Regions from separate parts of the Homo sapiens genome. Here region 2 is linked to region 1. Evidence: fine-mapped expression QTL. A gene starts in region 1. The other region holds a variant in brackets. All regions are shown on one strand. Distances are from middle to middle. Region 1 holds the start of USP10 (ubiquitin specific peptidase 10). Region 2 overlaps USP10 (ubiquitin specific peptidase 10).

Evidence for each region. PIP is the estimated chance that this variant, and not a neighbour inherited with it, causes the effect.
Region 2: its variant is fine-mapped to the expression of USP10 in whole blood (TOPMed, PIP above 0.99).

The regions. Positions count from the first base shown.
Region 1 is chr16:84,693,489-84,703,736 of GRCh38, forward strand. USP10 (ubiquitin specific peptidase 10) reads left to right here and starts at 6,512. Exons shown (of 14, transcript NM_005153.3): 1 at 6,512-6,623. The coding sequence starts at 6,603. RefSeq lists silencers at 5,984-6,503, 6,594-6,813, 6,824-6,933, 6,974-7,083.
Region 2 is chr16:84,758,042-84,768,645 of GRCh38, forward strand. USP10 (ubiquitin specific peptidase 10) reads left to right here. Exons shown (of 14, transcript NM_005153.3): 5 at 675-766; 6 at 1,322-1,431; 7 at 1,850-1,905; 8 at 2,131-2,234; 9 at 4,948-5,047; 10 at 6,045-6,222; 11 at 10,152-10,317. Among named protein-coding and RNA genes, the nearest start is that of CRISPLD2, 57 kb to the right of the region's middle. RefSeq lists a silencer at 2,882-3,176. The variant A/G (reference allele first, on the strand shown) is at 5,107.

The sequences.
Region 1 (10,248 bases):
GGCCTGATTCTAGTGGAAGAAAAAGACAATAAACACACAAAATTAATATGCCATAGAATGTCAGCTAGTTTCCCCAAATGTCAGCTACAAGTTTCCCCAAATTCTAATTTTTGTTTGAAAGAAAGTTTGTGAGTGCTGTGGGAAATTAACCTGGATAGCAGGAGGGCACAGGGTGGGGCACCCATTATGGGCAAAGGAGTGAGGAGGGTCCTTTAGGAAGAGACGACCATTAACAGAAACCTGAGTGAATGAAGGGTTGAGCCTCCCTGGGGAAAGTTCCAGGCAGACAGAGGGCACATTTAAAGTGGGCACTTGCTGGCACGGGAGAGCTGGAGTTCTCAAACTTCTTGGTCGCTGATCTCTTCACATTCTTAAAAATTATTGTTGGCTGACCTCCTGTTGGCAAAGCTAAAGAATTAAATGAGAAAAAAAAAAAAAAAAAAAGAGCCAGTGCGGTGGCTCACGCCTGTAATTCCAGCACTTTGGGAGGCCGAGGTGGGAGGATCACGAGGTCAGGAGTTCGAGACCAGCCTGACCAACATGGTGAAACCCTATCTCTACTAAAAATACAAAAACTAGCCGGGCGTGGTGGCTCACGCACCTGTAATCCCAGCTATTCAGGAGGCCGAGGCAGGAGAATCGCTTGAACACAGGAGACAGAGGTTGTATCTGTTGTGGTTTACCATATTAGAAGTAAAAACTAAAACATTACAAAATAATAACAATTTATTTAAAATATAATACTTTCATTAAATGTTAACATAAATAACATCATTTTAGTGAAAAACAACTATACTCCAAAACAAAACATTTTGGTGAGAGGAGTGGCATTATTTTGTATTTTTACAAATTTTTAAAAAGTCTGGGCCAGGAGCAGTGGCTCACACCTGTAATCCCAGCACTGTGGGAGACTGAGGAGAAAGGATTGCTTGAGCTCAGGAGTTTGAGACCAGCCTCGGATTACAAGCATTAGCCATTGTGTCTGGCCCCACTGTCCTATCTTGTACTTTGAATGGATCTTTTACTCATGTGCAATTTTATAACATCAGTCATTTGGAAAACATTGATTCGCTGAGTTATGCAGATCTTCCAAATGTTGACGCATTCTATTCTATTTTTTTTTTTTAATTACAGACATAAAGATGGCAACAATAGACACTAGCGACTACTAGAGGGGGAAGGGAGGGAGGGGGGCAAGCGTTGAACAACTAACAGTGGGTACTATGCTCAGTACCTGGGGGGCGAGATCATTCCTACCCCAAATCTCAGCATCATGCAGTATACCCAGGTAACAAACCTGCACATGTACCTCCTGAATCTAAAAGTTGAAAAAAAGTTACATTTATTACTATCACCACCAATCTTATCAGAAAAGTCTTTAAGAATTGGGTAGCTGTCCATCTCACAATGGTGGATACAAGTGTCTCCAAATTCTAATTTTTGTTTGAAAGAAAGCTTGAATTTTATAATTGGCAATAAATGCTGTCAAATGCACTGAGCCCTTCCTGTGCAAACCTCACTTTCCCTTCTAAGAACTCTGGGAGTAATAATGACAATTTTCACCATTTATTAAGCCCTTGCTGTATGCCGGACATTTTGCTAAGCAATTTGCCTCTGTTATCTTATTCTCCTTTTCACGATATCCCTGGGAGGTATTATTTCTCCCATTTTGCAGATGAGGAAACTGAGGTCCAGAGACACTAGTTACTTGCTTAAGGCCACACAGTTAGTGGCACTCCTATATACTTTCAGAGTTCCAGAAAAGAACTCTTGGGAAACACCTACTCATCAAGATCTAGCTCAAATGTTACCTCCTTGGGGAAGCCTTATGCCCAAACTGGACAATGAGAAAACTCACTTACCATTTGTTGAATGGTAGTTTAAAAGCACCAGGCACCGGGCATGGTGGCTCATGCCTGTAATCTCAGCATTTTGGGATGCCGAGGCGGGTGGATCACCTGAGGTCAGGAGTTTGAGACCAGCCTGGCCAACAGAGTGAAACGCTGTCTCTACTAAAAATACAAAAATTAGCTGGGCATGGTGGTGCATGCCTGCAATCTCGGCTACTTGGGAGGCTGAGGCAGAAGAATCGTTTGAACCCTGGAGGCGGAGGTTGCAGCGAGCTGAGATCATGCCACTGTACTCCAGCCTGGGCGACAAAGTGAAATTCCGTCTCAAAAAAATAAAAAAATAAAAGCACCAGGCAGCACACTCCATGTGCTAGCTCCATTACTTCATCTCCTCCTAGCAACAGGCTTATAGAACAGGTAGTGTTGCTTCCCCTGTCATAGTTTCCTATTGTTGCTGGAACAAAATTTACCGGCTTAAATCAACACAAGTTTTTTGTTTTAAAGTTCTGTAGCTCAGAAGACTCACGGGGCTAAATCAAGCTGTAAGCAAGGCTATGTTCCTTCTGGCAGCACTAGCAGAAAATGTTTGCCCTTTTCCAGCTCCTAGAGGCCACCCACATTCCTTGGCTCGTGGCACCAGCAGCGCAGCATCTTCAAATCTCTCCCTCTCTCTTTCTGCTTCTATTTTCACATCTCCTTGTGACCTGACTCTCTTGCCCCTCCTTCTTTCCCTCATAAGGACCCTTGTGATTACTTGGGACCCACCAGTCATGTCATAATTAGGTTATTTCCCAGGATAATCCATCTCAAAGCCTTTAACATTACCACATTTGCAATGTTCCTTTTACCATGTAAAGTAATATATCCACAGGTTCTGAGGTTGGGGCATGGACATCTTTGAGGGGAGGGGCATTATTCTGCCCATCACACCACCTTCTACAAAAGATTCACAGAAAATGTAGGTAACTTGCCCAGGTTCACACAGCTAGTGAGTGGGGGATTCCAGATTTGAACTTGGGCCTGTCTTGACTCCAGGCCTAGGCCACTGTCCCCAGACTCATGGGAGATACCAGGTGTATTAGTCGGTTGTCATGCTGCTAATAAAGACATACATACCCAAGCTAGGTAATTTATAAAGCAAAGAGGTTTAATTGACTCACAGTTCCACATGGCAAGGGAGGCCTCACAATCATGGCGGAAGGCAAATGAGGAGCAAAGTCACGCTTAACATGGCGGCAGGCAAGAGAGCTTGTGCAGGGGAACTCTCATTTGTAAAACCATTAGAGGCTGGGCGTGGTGGCTCACGCCTGTATTCCCAGCACTTTGGGAGGCTGACGTGGGCAGATCACTTGAGGTCAGGAGTTCAAGACCAGCCTGGCCATCATGGTGAAACCCCATCTCTACTAAAAATACGAAAATTAGCCGGGCGTGGTGTCACATGCCTGTAGTCCCAGCTACTCCAGAAGCTGAGGCAGGAGAATCACTTGAACCCAGAAGGCGGAGGTTACGGTGAGCTGAGATCCTGCCACTGCACTCCAGCCTGGGCGACAGAGCAAGACTGTCTCAAAAACAAAAACAAAAACAAAAACAAAAAAACAACCAAACAAACCAAAAAAACCACACACACACACACACACACACACACACACACAAACATTAGATCTTGTGAGACTTACTCACTACCATGAGAACAGTATGGGGAAAACCACGCCAATGATTCAATTATCACCACGTGGCCCCACTCTTGACACGTGGGGATTATTACAATCCAAGATGAGATTTGGGTGGGGACACAGCCGAAGTATATCACCAGGCTCTGCTAAGCACTGAAGGCCATAGTGCTTGTTCATAGCTTCCTTTTAACATCTATTTCCTTGTACTGAAGGTATGTGTTCATATCTATGTGAATTATTTGAAAATGAAGACTGGGATCTTTTTTATTTATTTATTTATATATTTATTTATTTGTGAGACAAAGTCTCACTTTTGTCCCCCAGGCTGGAGTGAGATGGTGTGATCTCAGCTCACTGCAACCTCCGCCTCCCGGGTTCAAGCAATTTTCCTGCCTAGGCCCCCCAGGTAGCTGGGATTACAGGTGCCCGCCACCATGCCCAGCTAATTTTTGTATTTTTAGTAGAGACGGGGTTTCACCATGTTGGCCAGGCTAGTCTCGAACTTTTGACCTCAGGTGATCCACCCGCCTCAGCCTCCCAAAGTGCTGGGATTACAGGCGTGAGCCACCGTGCCTGGCCTGGGATCTTTTGTTTATTATCACTTTTATTTGTTGTTCAAGCAACTGTATGATAAAAATCAGACAAACAACTATATATATATATATATATATATATATATATATATATATATATATATGTTTTTTTTTTTTTTTTTTTTTGAGACAGAGTTTCACTCTTGTTGTCCAGGCTGGAGTGCAATGGTGCCATCTCGGCTCACTGCAACCTCTGCCTCCCGGGTTCAAGCGATTCTTCTGCCTCAGCCTCCTGAGTAGCTGGGATTACAGGCGCCTGCCACCACGCCCGACTAATTTTTGTATTTTTAGTAGAGACGGGGCTTCACCATGTTGATCAGGCTGGTCTTGAACTCCCGACCTCAGGTGATCCACCCACCTCAGCCTTCCAAAGTGCTGAGATTACAGGTGTGAGCCACCGCACCGAGCCAGAGAGACAACCATAAATCACTAGTGAGTTTTCACGTCCCCCAGTTTCTATCCAAGTGCAGATATCGCTTTTCCATGGTTAAAATTATAGCACAGACACTATATTGTATTGTTTTCCCCAATTTTTTGTTATAAAAATTTTCAAACATAGAGAAAAGCTGAAATATATAGCACTACTTAGAGCCAACAATAGTAAACATTTTGCCATATTTGCTGTCTCTCCCTGAATGTTTATGTGTGTACATGATTTTATCTTTTGTTGAACCATTAAACAATAGTTTACAGGCATTATGGCCTTCACTCCTCAACTCTTCAGAATGCATCTCCTCACAATAAGGACATTCTCTCAGTGAGCACAGTATAATTATTACACTATAAAATTACCAATAATTCACGAAGATCACCCATATCCAATCCATATTCAAATGTCTCCAATTGTCAACAAATAGTAAAACCAGCTTAAAAGACATATCAGGATCCAAGCAAGATGACACATTGTATTTGGTTATGTTTTCTAGCTCTTCTATTTTGGAACAACCCCTCCCTACCACTTATATTTTTCTTTTCTTTTCTTTCTTTCTTTCTTTCTTTTTTTTTTTTTGAGACAGAGACTCGCTCTGTCACCCAGGCTGGAGTGCAGTGGCACGATCTCGGCTCACCGCAACCTCCGTCTCCGGGGTTCAAGTGATCCTCCCACCTCAGCCTCCTGAGTAGCTGGGACGCCTGGTGTGCCACACTACATCCCACCAATTTTTGTATTTTTAGTAGAGTTGGGGTTTCATCATATTAGCCAGGCTGGTCTCCAACTCCTGACTTCAAGTGATCCGCCCGCCTCGGCCTCCCAATGTGTGGGATTCCGGGTGTGAGCCGCTGCGCCTGGCCCACTTATATTTTTCATGGCATCCCATTTATGAAGAGACCAGGCTCCCTATTTTATGTAACGTGGGAATGGATCTTCCTGTTCATCTCCTCTGCTCAGTGTACGGTCTAGCAAGAGCAGACTCTCTGTAGGTGTTTGTTGAATAAATGAAACCAATAGTAATGGTTATTAATAACAATCCCAGTAGCCAATTTTTATTGACTATTCTCTTGGCCAGTGTGCTCACGTTAATCTAATTTGAACCTCACAGAAATCTTACGCGTTATGACATATTTGTCTTATTCACAGGTGAGGAAACCAAGGCTTAGGGAAGGAAAGTCGCTTGTCTGAAATCACAGCTAGAAAAGGGGCCAAAACCCAAGGGTGGACCCACTGGCTGGAAAACAGTGCAGTTAGGCAGGGGCCCCTGTTTCTTAATAATGAATGAACCAACGACCCCCAAGGCTGGTTTGCCCGTGCACACGCACGCACGTGTGCAACACGTAGCACTTGCTGAGTGTTTGCTACTTGCCAGGCCTCATGTCAAGCACTTTACGCGTGCTTTTATGCCCTACGTTTTGTTTTTGTCTGTTTTGCTTTTTTCCCCTAATGCCTAGCCAAAGGCGTGGCCCAGGCGCCCAGGCAGGACTTGGGGAGTGAATGAAGAGTGAACAAATGAATGAATGCGCGGCAACGGGATCTTCATAAACCAGACCCTCCTCGGGGATCTAATGCGAACACTCCCGAGGCCCGGGCCCAGGTACGCTGAGGGCGGCTCGTGGGCCCCAGGCCGACCTCAGCCCGCGACTCCCGGGCTCCGGGGGCCCAGGTGGCCCCCAGTAGGTGAGGAGCCGGGCCCGCCGGCGCCTTGGCGTTGCCACCTCTACCTGCCTGCCCTCTCCCCTTCCGGATCCACAGCCAGGCCTCGGCGGGCTCCTGGTGTGCAGCCGCCCGGCCGCTTCCGCCCGAGGGTCGCGGGGCTCAGAGTCCGGCAGGCTCCAGGCGGGGCAGGGGATGTCCGCGGCCCGGCAGGCGCACGCCCACCTGTCGGCCGCGCAGGCGCAGCAGCGGGCCGGCCTCCCCGCGCCCCGCGGCGCGCGGCCAGTGCGCAGGCGCGGCGGCCGATGCGAGTGTGTATGTGCGGGCGAGAAGATGGCGGCGGCGGGGGAAGCAGCGTGAGCAGCCGGAGGATCGCGGAGTCCCAATGAAACGGGCAGCCATGGCCCTCCACAGCCCGCAGGTAGCCGCCGGTCTGCGCCTTCGGCCGGAAGGGGCCCGAGCCCCGGGCGGGCGGACGCCGCGGCGGGCGGGCGTCCGCGCCCTGCCCGGAGCGAGCGTGTGGGAGTGGGGGAGGGCGCTGGGACACGCTGCCCGGGCCTAGGCCGGAGCCACCCGCCGCCTCCGCGCCCGCCGCGCCTTCGTCCCCTGAGCCACCCGGACCCCCTAGTCCCGGGGAGGTCGAAGGGCGGGGGCTCCGGGCCCCGCTTGGGGAGGGCGTGGAGGGCGCCGAAGGGGTTAACCTCCCTGGGGCTGGACCGCGGGGCGAGCCCGGGGTGTGGAGTGGGGCCCTCCCCGCCGCGCCGGCCGGGGGAGGCGGCCCGGGGGCTCCGGGAGTCCCCTGGAGCGCAGGGGCCCCAGAGCAGCTCAGGTTGCTGCCTCTGCCTGGAGCGAGCCTCAGAGATTTGGGGGTGCCCTGTTGCCCCTTTGCCCCAAGAGCTTCCTTTCTCAGCTTGATTGATGATGCGGGGGTTGCCGATTTTCTGTTTTTTAGATAGAAGTAGCAGAGTAGCGGCCTTGGGCTGCTGTTGCAAAGAAAACTCGAAATAAGTCGCAAGGACCGTACTTTCACTTGCGTTTGAGTGACATCCCTTGCACGAATCCATCCCAGCCAGGCTGACAACTAACGCACCCTGCCTGAACAGTAGCTAAAGCTTGGGGGCCCTTTACAATAATCCCGTGGTGGAAAGAAAGAGCTCTTTTTGGGAGATGTGCGTGTAGAGTTAAGCTCTTATTCCCCTCTCCCACCCCTTCTCTCACATCTTCTCCCCCCTCCGCCATTATAATTATTCTGGACAAAAATCGGCATGATGTATTATTTGTCAGCCTTGCTTTAGACTGCTAATTTGTTGACATCTGGTCCCTATAAATTGTTGCACACTTTTAAACCATCTCATTGTGTATTTGTATTAAATATGGGGAAATGAAACAAAGTAGCCATTCGGGAAACTGATTGCGAGTAAAATCATAACCCTTCATGAGCAATTGGGTTTTGTTGCCCTTCTGCAGATGAAGTCAATCTGACTACACCTCTTTTGAAACATGATTTTCGGAACTATTGTAATGAATGCGTGTTGTGGAATCTAAAATGCGAAAACTTTTTAAAAAATTAGATCTTACGACAAGCTTCAATTTTGTTAAATTAGCTGTAGTTTAGTTTGCATCAGAATTTCCCCCTTTAACGTTTTGTTCCCTTATTCATTTACTTTTGTAAGTAGTGTAGGTCTTTGCGCCAAAAAAGGGATCAGTAGTTGAATAATTTTTACAAATGTATAGCCCAAAGATTTTAAGAGATTTGGTGTATTTAGCTTTGTTTAGACCTTTCTGTTAAAAAAAAAGATTTGATATTTGCTTTTTTCTCAACTTAAATCCTAATTAACTAGCTTATTAGAATTGGTATGAACAAGTAAAAGGCTCATTATGAATTAATGTGTAATATTCCTTGTGATTTTGACATGAAGAAAGCATCTTTAGGCATAGCTCACTTCCTTTATTTAATAAGCATCAATCACAATTCAAGGTTGATTGAAATGTTAATTAATGGGGATGGATAATATGTAAACTTAATTGTAATTTCGTTTGCATTCATTGTCCCAGTATTTACGTTTTATACAACAGTCTAAAGCGTTATACACATCTTTAGAAAATTGGAGTAGCAAAAGTTGGCGGAACGTAAATGTTAGCAACACTTTGGGTTTATTCTTTTAAAGTATGATTTAAATGCTTTTAAGTTTTAGCATGGAGAAAGTAGCAAAGGAAATAGTTTGATTTCTCATAATTTTCTTCTTCTTTTTTTTTTTTTTTTTGAGTTGGAATTTGGCTCTTGTTGCCCAGGCTGGAGTGCTGTGGTTATTAACCTATAAACTTTTTTATTTATTTTGAGATGGAGTTTCGCTCTTTTTTTTTTTTTTTTTTTTTTTTTTTTGAGACGGGAGTCTTGCTCTGTCGCCCAGGCTGGAGTGCAGTGGCATGATCTCGGCCCACTGCAACCTCTGCCTCCCGGGTTCAAGCGATTCTCCTGCCTCAGCCTCCCAAGTAGCTGGGATTACAGGCGCCCACCACCATGCCTGGCTAATTTTTTGTATTTTTATTAAAGACGGGTTTCACCATGTTGATCAGGCTGGTCTCAAACTCCTGAGCTCAGGTGATCCACCCGCCTCGGCCTCTCAAAGTGCTGGGATTATAGGCGTGAGCCACTACTGCGCCTGGCCGATTTCTCATAATTTTCATTTTAAAAGAATAGTAATGCAAACAAGTAATGGAATCATGTATGACAGGATTTAGTTACTGGTTCCTGCTCCAGTCATTCTGAGCGTTTTAATAAATTTGTTTTACTTGGTTGCCTACTGTCCTAAGAGTCTTGCAGCCTTAATGGCCATTCATTCATTCAGCAAATACTGATTGTTTATCAGATATTAAGCGTCATGGTATGTATATTACTTGTTTATGTTGGGAATAACAACTGCAAATTGAAGGTCTTATTTTAAAATTGACTTGTTAAAGTTAAATTTGTCACTGAGAATAATGGGAGGTGGAAAAAGTTACAGTTTAAAAATGTTTACAGGCCAGCGCGGTGGCTCGTGCCTGTAATCCCAGCACTTTGGGAGGCGCAGGTGGGTGGATCACTTGAGGTCAGGGGTTCGAGATCAGCCTGACCAATATAGTGAGACCCTGTCTCTACTAAAAATACAAAAATTAGCCGAGTGTGGTGAAGCTCGCCTGTAGTCCCAGGTACTTGGGAGGCTGAGGCAGGAGAATCGCTTGAACCCGGGAGGCGGAGGTTGCAGTGAGCCGAGATCATGCCACTGCACTCCAGCCTGGGCGACAGAGCAAGACTCCCGTCTCAAAAAAAAAAAAAAAAAAAAGAGCGAAACTCCATCTCAAAATAAATAAAAAAGTTTATAGGTTAATAACCTTATTTCCAAATATTAGAAAGTGTTGGTTGATCCCTGTTACCTGTATTGAAGTGTAATAGTGAAGAATTTGGAAACATTTTGAGACCGGTAACTCAGCATTTTAGCAAAGACAAATAAATGAACTTTAACAGTTGAAGTGTAGGTCCAAGTGAATATCCTTGTCACTGAGGGGACCGGTTAAATTATTTGGGGTAATTAATTTGAAGCTATTAGTTTTGCCTTACACCGAAAAAATATTTGTGATTATTGATGTCATTTATAGTGAAATCTCCACAATAATGCTTCCTACACCCAATTTGAATGTCATGCAGTTGGCTTCTGTCCTTGTCTCTGCATAGACTCACCCCAGTCTCTTTTTTAGCTTGTAATAGCAGATCCTCCACATTTTACATGATGGAAAGTCTTGGATTCCCCCTCTAGCATATGGCTGAATGTTACTGTATTGCTGAATATCTGTTTCTAGCCAACAGCTGGATTAGTGTTAATTCTTAAAAGAGATACATTTTTATTAGAATCTCAAGTAATGAGCAGCTGAAGTAAATACAATTGTTTGAAATGTTGACAGGGCATTTGGAGATAACAGTTTTCCTTTGCATAGTGACAGCAAGCTATTTAAACATGTCCTAAGAGTAGATGTTTTAAGTTTGTGAGCCAGTGGTCACCTTAGTGGTT
Region 2 (10,604 bases), 65 kb after region 1:
GCTGTTTTAATACACAGAAAGAGTGATGTCCACTCAGGGTGAACCTGAGGCTGAGCAGCGTGTTTGTAAATGGAATAAGGGAATTACAGTTTATAAAACAGTTGCTAAATTGGATTTCTAGTGGACGGTTTAATTTGTAGGAGACCGCTGTCTCTGAAAGGAGTATTTTTACTCACTGAACAGCCATTGAACACACACAGTGATGTGTAGGGTCAGCATTAGATGCTGGGGATGCAGAGAGGAATGAGACGTGGGTTCTGCAAGATATCTTTCTATCTAGTGTCTGAGGCGCCTTGCTGCTGATGAGACACACCTGGCTAATGGTGTTTAAGGAAGAAAGGCTGTATCTCTCAAATCTATTCTCTAATAATGATACTGTGTTAACATTTTTTTGTTTCTCATTAAAATAGGTAGTTCTTGTGTTCCCTAATTCTGTTCCCCCCAGGAAGATTAAATGTTGCTATTTGAGGGAAAAGATTAGTTTCAAAAATGTTCTAATTGAATAATGTACTTGATGTTGAACTGAATGAAGCCTTAACAGTATGCATTTTCTTTGGCTGTGTGTTTTACTGAAGGGATTTTAAATGCTGTCCCAGAGTAGAGCATGTGAAATGATTTGAATGTTCTTCACTAGATGTCATCAATTTCTGAAATATGCTTCTTCACTCTTTCAGAGTTGCTGGAGAATGTAACCCTAATCCATAAACCAGTGTCGTTGCAACCCCGTGGGCTGATCAATAAAGGGAACTGGTGCTACATTAATGCTGTATCCTTCCTGGACGCCGTCCGCAAGGCCAGCTTGTTGCAGCTGTCCCTCCTTTGGGTGCATGTGACTTAGCTCAGCTTCCGTGGGCCATCTAGCTCTCCATTTGAATCCCTAAGTCTGGTTTATTACTTGGTCTGCCTACCTTGCTTATAAACAGGATTATTCCTGACCCCAGTCCATCTCCCTCTAAAAGAGAGGATATGTTGGCACGTGAATGAGGGCTGCAGACAAGCTGGCTCTCATTAGAATAGTCACAAATAATAGGGCAGAGCAACCACTTACAACTGGAAATTTGGTTTTAACTGATTGAACTGTCTTGGTTAGGTCAAGTTCTTGAATACAAACGACTGACTGCTTCGTAGATCCTTATATGGACATCACAGGACACTTACCCTAGTAACTATTTGGTTTATTCCTTTTCGTGGTGACATATCTAAGTAGTTCAACGTCCTTAGCTTCCTTGTGTTTTTATAAACATTCTTGTGCTTCATGTGCCTTCAGGAAATGTGGTGTGTCTGTTCATTTCCTTTACGCTTCCTTACTGCCACTACATAGACACTGCAGGCATTGGTTGCTTGCCCGCCGATGTACCACCTGATGAAGTTCATTCCTCTGTATTCCAAAGTGCAAAGGCCTTGTACGTCAACACCCATGATAGACAGCTTGTAAGTAAGGTGGTGAAAGATGTGTTAAGTGGTGGGGTTTTTCCCGTCTGATAATTAGAATTGAAATAGTTTAGTAAAGCTCTTGATTTCCTGCAAATGAGTCCTATAATTCTGTCTTTTTTTAAAAATAGACTGTTGGCGATTTTATATGGAAGTTAACCAGAAATGGAATTGGAGCATTGATGATCTGTGTTCTTTAGATTCAGTAGAAAATATTTTAGCGTTTACCAGCATATATCACTTGAAATAGACCAAAAATGCATATAGAAGAGACTTGAGTTCACTAGCTGTTACAGCATTGGTTACCTAAAATCTACTATACTCGTATAGCTGATATTCTACTTAGCCATCAAAGCTCTTTAGTAAAAGTATATATTGTTTAAAACTGCACTATTTAACATTTTTTCCCCATGTTTAGTGTTCGGCTAATGAATGAGTTCACTAATATGCCAGTACCTCCAAAACCCCGACAAGGTTAGTAAAAATGAGTTTTGTTGATGCTATTACATATTGGGAGTTATGGAGACAGATGACTTAAATTTGGTAAATTCAGTCTTGTTGGGAAGATAGTGTCTTTACACCTATGCCATTCTCAACATTCAGCCAGGTGGGAGGTGGGGGAGTTTTGATGATGTTGCTTTTTTCATCATTTATGAGTTCATTGTAGTTAGGAAAACCTGTGTCCTCTTTCCATTGCAGCTCTTGGAGATAAAATCGTGAGGGATATTCGCCCTGGAGCTGCCTTTGAGCCCACATATATTTACAGACTCCTGACAGTTAACAAGTCAAGCCTGTCTGAAAAGGTTTGAGACTTCTCTGTTGTCACTAGTATCAAGTGTTGCCTTTTGTTCCAGTGTTTGTGTGGTAACTGTTGCTTATTGATATTTGCCCTCTGTCTCCAGCGCTATAAGTAGATGTAGGTTTATAAGAGTCCATTGCTTGGATGATATGGTGCACCAAGCACTGCTCTCAGTACTTTACATATATTAACTTAGTTGACTCTGAATAAAGTATGATTATGGTCTCCTTGTTACGGTTAAGAGAAGTGAAGCCACTGTCTGAGGTCAGGTAGCTAATGTACATGGCAGAACCCAGCTTTCAAGTCAGTTCTCTTAACCACTGCACTATATGCCACTGGGGTAGAATGGAGTGCACTGGGCCTGGAATGATGGCAGTATTCAGAAGAGCTTATGTCTTCATCATACTTACAGGCTTTAGTAGCTATTTGATGTACTTGATTCCTTTACCTAATTTTTTTTTAATCACATACTTTGTTACTAAAGGCATGAGACCAAGGGGCCAGGGAGCCCTTATAAAAGGCCCTGGGGCTGTTGAGAGTGACTTGGGCCGCCCTTAGCACCGTTAACTGGAGCATTTCTTTCCTCCCAGATTGAGTTTGTGATGAATCAGTACAAGCAGTTGAAATGATGCTTAGGGAAATGTATTCAGAGAGAAAAATAGTTGAGAAAATGCCATTTAAGTCAAGTTTACTTGAAGCTTCATTGCTTTGAAGAAGAGTGAATGTCGAGGGCATCGTTGCAGGATACCACCAGGGGTAGCATAGGGTCTTAAGCTTTTTAAATGCTTATAATGCAGCTTTTGGTATTGGCTTGGAATTTGCACTTCCCAAGTAATGGGAACATGGTGTTAGGGATGCAGAAATGGAATGAAGTGCGCCCTCTGCCCTCAGTGAGGGAATGAGTTAATGAATAGTCAACAAGAGAAGCACAAAGATACAGAGATGCCTTAGAACCCAGAGGGGCCCACCTAGCACAGGTGGAGGCAAAATAAAGTGGGTGCTCAGGAACCCCTCTTGGATCGTGCACAGAGATAATGCTATGAACAAAAGCATCTTCTAAAGGTTACATTAATAGGGGATGTGTTGGGCTCCCCAAGACCACCCTGAGGTTGGGTGATTCACTGGAAGAACTCAGAAAATGCAGAAGCTGGTATACCCGTGGCTATGGTTGCTGACAGCAAAAGCATGCGGAGCAGAGTCAGGAAGGGAAAGGACAGGTGAGGCAGGGCCTAAAGGAAACTTCCAGACTCCTCTCCCAGTGGGGCCACAAGGCTACGCGTAACTACTCCAGCACCAGACTGTGACCACACGTGAAATGCTGCCAACCAGGGAAGGTCATTACAGACTCCGTGTCCAGAGTTTTTACTGAGGGCTGGTCCCATAGGTACCATCTGCCTGGCTTGAACCAAAAGTCCAAACTCCCAAAACAAAAGCAAAGTGTTCAGCAGAAAGCACATTGCTTGCGCAAACGGTTTAGGCAGAATCCCGTATCAGTTATTGGACCGATGGGAACCTTTCTGAAATCCAAATTCCCAGACACCAGCCAAGGGGCAACCTTGCAAGCAGGCCTTTCCAAGGAGAGCCACCCAGGCCTGCTATGAAAAGTCTTCAGCACACTTTGGCTGTGCCAGTTTTTGCCCTTTTCTGCACACGTGCAGAGCATGCACTCACGTGAACAGCTGCTGTCCACGTCTACTATCTGGAGAGGGCAAGTAAACTTTGCAGTTTACCTAGATGCTTCAAACAGAACAATTTGCAGGGCCTTGGAATAGGCAGTTGTGCTGTGAAGAATGAAATATGAACTGATGATAAGTAACAGAATCAAACACTCGTGATGTGGGATTATTAAACTCTTGGGTGACTCGTCTGTGAATGATTTTGCTGATGTATGTGTAACACAGCTAACGCTCTAAATCAGTGGAGTTTTTCCACATGTAGTTTGAGTTCTTTCCCATGTAGTTGTCCATCATCAAAGACAGACAGAAGCAGACATAGGGCTGCTTAGCTCATTGCTCGAGTGGTGACCCTTGCAGTTGAACAGTGAACTGGCCCTAGACATCTAGTTCTTCGTCTTCTATTTTGTTTACCCAAGACAGAAACTTTTTTTTAAATAACTTTTTTGTGATAAAGGTAATGTGGCCAGGTGTGGTGGCTCATGCCTGTAATCCCAGCACTTTGGGAAGCCAAGGCAGGCAGGTCACCTGAGGTCAGGAGTTTGAGACCAGCCTGGCCGACATGGTGAAACCCCGTCTCTACTAAAAATACAAAGATTAGCCAGGCATGGTGGCACACACCTGGAGTCCCAGCTACTCGGGAGGCTGAGGCAGGAGAATCGCTTGAACCCGGGAGCTGGAGGTTGCACTGAGCTGAGATTGCACCACTGCACTCCAGCCTGGGTGACGGAATGAGACTTTGTCTCAAAAAAAAAAAAAAGTATATTTATTGAAGAAAATTTCAAAAATACAGAAAGTATAAATAATAAAAATCCCCATTAGTCCACCCATTTAGAGATATGTGTTTAGTCAGTTTCTCCTTTTCCTCCTACTCTTGGGATTTCAGCTATGCAAGGGAAACCCATGTCATCATGTCATTGTTTGGAAATACTTTACATCTTCCATTTCAGAGGAGGCATGGTTGGACTTTGCAAGTACTGCATGTCCTGCAGGCCTTTGACAGTGATCAGTTCACAGTAACGTGATTATATTTGACCTTTTCAGGGTCGACAAGAAGATGCTGAGGAATACTTAGGCTTCATTCTAAATGGACTTCATGAGGAAATGTTGAACCTAAAGAAGCTTCTCTCACCAAGTAATGAAAGTAGGTTATGGTCCACTTGCCGCAGAGTTGTGCAAGAGTTCGCTGTAAACAGGTGTTGC[A/G]TACTCATATGTTATGTTGCTTCCCTGCCCCTCAGTCGTTTTCCTTTCAAATAGCATTTATTCCCTACGATAACTTACACCATCGAGAAGGTTATATTTAGGTAAATTACAGTTTATCCCGAACCTCTGCCATTTTCCTTTAACTTTTAATTAGGAAAATGATCAAGCCTATAAAAAAGCTGAAAGAATCGTTTGATGAATACCTTTATAATTGCCGAGTGTACAGTTTTAAACATATTTTCTGATGCTATACACACACTGTGTATATATATATATGTCTTATCTGTCCATCCATATATACATACATACGCATACATTTTCCCTGAATGATTCAAAGTTAAGTTGCAGCTAACAGTTTAGTTCATCTCAGGTGCTAAAGCATCTCCTGCGTAACCACAGTCCCTTATCTAACTGAGAAAAACAACTGTAATGACACGGTAATACCGACTTTGCAGAGCATCTTCAAATTTCGCCAGTTGTCCCAGGGATGTCATTTCTAGGAGTTTATGTAAACAAGGATCCAGTGGTGGTGCACCTGTTGCGATTGGTTGCCGTGGATCAAGTGGCATTGCAATGGGTTGCAGTGGATCCAGTGGCATTGCGCCTGTTGTGATTGGTTGCCGTGGATCCAGTGACGTTGCACCTGTTGCGATTGGTTGCCGTGGATCCAGTGACGTTGTGCCTGTTGGGATTGGTTGCCATGGATCCAGTGACGTTGCACCTGTTGCGATTGGTTGCCGTGGATCCAGTGACATTGTGCCTGTTGCGATTGGCCGTGGATCCAGTGACGTTGCTCCTGTTGCGATTGGTTGCCGTGGCTCCTAATGTAGACCACACCCTGATTTCATTTTTAAAACTGCAATCGACAGATCTGTGCCTTTTTTTTTTTTGCTGTTCTTGTCGTAAATAGTAGTGTAAGCAGATGCTCTCCTTTTCAGAACTTACGATTTCCAACGGCCCCAAAAACCACTCGGTCAATGAAGAAGAGCAGGAAGAACAAGGTGAAGGAAGCGAGGATGAATGGGAACAAGTGGGCCCCCGGAACAAGACTTCCGTCACCCGCCAGGCGGATTTTGTTCAGACTCCAATCACCGGCATTTTTGGTGGACACATCAGGTTTGTGCTTTTCTGGAATAACTTAATATTTGCCTTTTCTAGGGTTTTGCCATGTTGGTGAAGGGGGAAGGTGTGAGGCTTGTTTTGAGACTTCTTGGACGTAATGGTTTGCATCTTGCTCCCCTGCCTGCTCTTCTCTTGCACTTCCTGATGCTTCCCTTGTCAGCCCCCGTGGCTTATTCTCTCCCTGCTGGCGCATGTCTGCAGGGGACAGGGAGCTCCTCCCTTCTACTCTGTCAAGTTCAGCTGCTCACTGCTAGGGAGTAAGAGAAAAGCCAGCTAATTGGCCATACGCGGTGGTTCATGCCTGTAATCCCAGGACTTTGGGAGGCCAAGGCGGGTGGATCACCTGAGGTTAGAAGTTCGAGATCAACCTGATCAACATGGTGAAACCCCGTCTCTACTAAAAATACAAAAATCAACCAGGTGTGGTGACAGGCACCTGTAATCCCAGCTATTAGGGAGGCTGAGGCAGGAGAATCGCTTGAACCCAGGAGGCAGAGGTTGCAGTGGCCCAGATAGCGCCATTGCACTCCAGCATGGGTGACAGAGTGAGACTCTGTCTCAAGAAAAAAAAAAGAAAAAGATACAGGAGAATGTCATCATGACTTAGGGGTAGGCAAAGGTTTCATAAGATAGGTCATAAACAATAACCACGAGAGAGAGAGAAAAAAAAATATATATATATATATTAGACTTCATCTGCATTTAAAACTTGCAACATAAAACCACCTCCGGGAGGCAGAGGTTGCAGTGAGCCAAGATTACACCACTGCACTCCAGCCTGGGTGACAGAGCAAGACTGTCTTCAAAAAAAAAAACCAGCTAACCAAACCATGTGTTTTGGTAAGAGAAGACAGTGTATCTGGAGGAATTTTATTTATGTTAATAAATTGTGTATATTTAAAGTATACACAGATGTTATGAAATAGAGATAGTAAAATAGTTGCTACAGTGAAGCAGATAAACATATTCCCCATCACAGTTACCCTTGTGTGTGTGTGTGTGCACATGGCAAGAGCAGCTGCAGTTTTACTCATTTCACAAAAGTCCCAAATACAGTGCACTATGAGTAGCTCTTGTCCGATGTTCCACATCAGATCTCTAGACCTGTTCGCCTGTGTGGCTGCCCTTGGTGTCCTTCGACCGACATCTTCCATTCCCACTCGCCACCCCTAGGAACCACTCTTTTCCCTATCTCTGTAGTTTCGTCTTTTTTTTTTTTTTAATAAAGATTCCATGTATAAGTGAGACCATGCAATATTTTTCTTTCTGTGTCTGACTTCTTTAACTTAGTATAATGTTCCCCAGGTTCATTCCTGTTGTGGCAAATGGCAGGGTCTTTATTACAGCTGAATAGTGTTCCCTTGTCTATATATACACACCACAGTTTCTTTATCCATTGGCCCATCCACAGACAGTTGTTTCCCTGTCTTGGCTGTTGTGAACTGATTGGAAGCAGGTGAGGTAGAAAGTGAAGAGAGTGTGAAGGGAGGTCTTTTTTACACAGACAGACCCGTGACTGGGCTGGAGTCCCTGGGCACCTGGCTGTGTGCCAGTTCCCTTAAGCAGCTTTTTGCTCATTCACAAAGTCCTTCGGAAAGGTTTTTCTTTATTTACCTGAGAGCTTTTCAGTACCACTGTGATGTGGAATTCAGCAAAACTTGTACCATCTCCAAGAAGGTTTACCCATCGAAAGTACTGAAGAGGCCTCATTGGAGCCTAATTTCCTTTCTGAGGCCTTGCGGCATAACCCCCAGGCTGGTATTTCAGTGACACTCTTAGTCTGTTGTTGTCCCAAATGCTGCGTACCTGAAAGAAAGAGCACCCCTTTTGAGGCATCAAGACTTGATTCAGTCTCAGTTCTGAGACTGAATCAACAACTTTCAACAGGTGAATAATAAGAACCTCAGAAACCTGCGCTGACGCCCTCAGAAGCTGGTTTCCCGTCCTCTGTGGAAGTGGATTTAGAAGCCAGTTGAGCAGCCATGTGACCTTGAACAAGTCACTTCTGTGTTCTGCACTGTGAGCTCTATTCCACTGGCCCCTTTCTATTCTGGTGCTCTGTGGAGTGTCCACGGCAGCTGGGTGGTCAGTTGTCACCTGGGAAACACCCAGCCCTGACCACTGTCTGTGGTTCCTTGGGACACGTCGTGTTGGGAGGGAGACGCTGAGGTCCAGGTTGGCGCGCAGCAGCGAGGGAAGGCTGTGCCCTTTGCTCCTTCAGCCCAGCAGCCTGGTTTAGGATTGTGAGGACACCCCCTCGGGATGGGAGAGAAAGATGAATGGACAGCTCAAATGGAGGCATCGGGAACATGGTTTTTGTGCAGAGGCCGGGTATCAGAATTTCAAGGCCACAGAGGGTCAGCATACTCAAAGATCCCAAATTTGTCTAAGAGTAACCAGTGGAAAATACCAGCGTCCATTTGGAGGACTTGCTGGCTCAGATTGAACAGCTCTGTCACAGCTGCTAGCCACATCCTCTGAGGGGTCTCTGTGTTGAAATTGGTTGTTGATGTTTCTTTTTGAAAAACGGTAAAGCAAAGATAGGGAATTCTTACAACGTAGGAACTTCTTTTCAGCCATTGTTAAGCATGATTCTTTATTCACACCAATTGAAAGATTTACTTCTAAAACTCAGCCTCTTCAGATGTTTTTCAGTTTCCCCAGGAAGACTTCCCCGCCTTTCTTCCCCGGTGCCACCTTTGCTAAAACACAGGACCACTGAATCAAGAGGGCTTCTTGATTCTCCACCAGCTCTCATGAGCGGTTTCCCCACTACTGTATCCCTCTCCAGAACCAGGGGAACTGTTGTCACTGAAGTCTTCAAACTGTAAAGGAGCATGGAGATGCGTAATTAAACCCTGGACAGAAAAGCTTTTAGCGAGCTCTTCACCGCATCTGTTCTGGAAAGCCTGAGTACCTGTCCACACCCATTTTATTCCGTTGAGAAACTAGGTCACCGAGACTGCAGAAATAGAAGCCCTTGTTGAACCCCTGGAATGTTTCCTTGCTGAGGCTAAATGAGAGATGGGCCGAACACACAATTTTTACTCAGAAAAACTTAGAAAAAGGAAAAAAAAAATGAAATGAAAAACCAGCTAAGAAAACAAGGTCAAATTGGCGCCCTTCTTGGAAGGGTGGCAGCCTTTTTTCCTGGAATGTTAACTTGTTTTTTATTCTACACACCCTACTCCCCTTCTTCTTTTTGTAAGACATCTTTATAGGAGGAAAATGCCATTAAAAATCCTCTATTTACCTTGGGATTTCCTCTATTTTATTAGAACAGGCTATGATACTTGGAGAAAATGGAAAGCAGCAGCGTTTTGAGGCCATGGCAGGGTGGCTGCCTTTATGAACCGGTGCAGTAAATAACAGTGTGGAGAGGAAGTGAAAGAATTTGGAAAATGAAATATGTTTTCTTCCAGAGCACTGGCGTTGGGAACATTTATCAACTGGTAGATTTAGTTGTTAGAAATACTAAGGAGGTGCTATTCAGCAGAATTATTATTATTTTTTTTAATTTATTTTTTTATTGATAATTCTTGGGTGTTTCTCACAGAGGGGGATTTGGCAGGGTCATGGGACAATAGTGGAGGGAAGGTCAGCAGACAAACAAGTGAACAAAGGTCTCTGGTTTTCCTAGGCAGAGGACCCTGCGGCCTTCCGCAGTGTTTGTGTCCCTGATTACTTGAGATCAGGGATTGGTGATGACTCTTAACGAGCATGCTGCCTTCAAGCATCTGTTTAACAAAGCACATCTTCAGCAGAATTATTTTTAAATTCAGTATATTTTTGGCTTTTCTCTGTGGTCTTTTGAAAGTGATATTGAATAATCTTATTTTCAGTGTTTATTCCCTTGGTTAATCTTAAGGGAAAGTGGCAAGGAGTGGTCTCTTAATTTTTTTGTTTTTGCTTTCAATTCTTAGGTCTGTGGTTTACCAGCAGAGTTCAAAAGAATCTGCCACTTTGCAGCCATTTTTCACGTTGCAGTTGGATATCCAGTCAGACAAGATACGCACAGTCCAGGATGCACTGGAGAGCTTGGTGGCAAGAGAATCTGTCCAAGGTTATACCACAAAAACCAAACAAGAGGTATGTTCACACTTGATTTTGAACCTTTCTACTAAGGTGCTCTGGTTTGGTGGAAAGAACACAAAATTAGGAATGAGGGGAAATGGGTTTGAGTTATGCCTCTTAAATCAGTTGCTTAACCATTTTGTACTGAAAGTTTTTATGGTTTTACAATGAAATGGTTGAAACGTGATCCCAAGGGCCTCTTTTAGCTCTAAATCATATTACACAAGGTAATGATCTCCTTTTGGATTGTTTATCTTGAGCTACATTTAATTTTCTGGCAATCTAATGATGATATCACAACA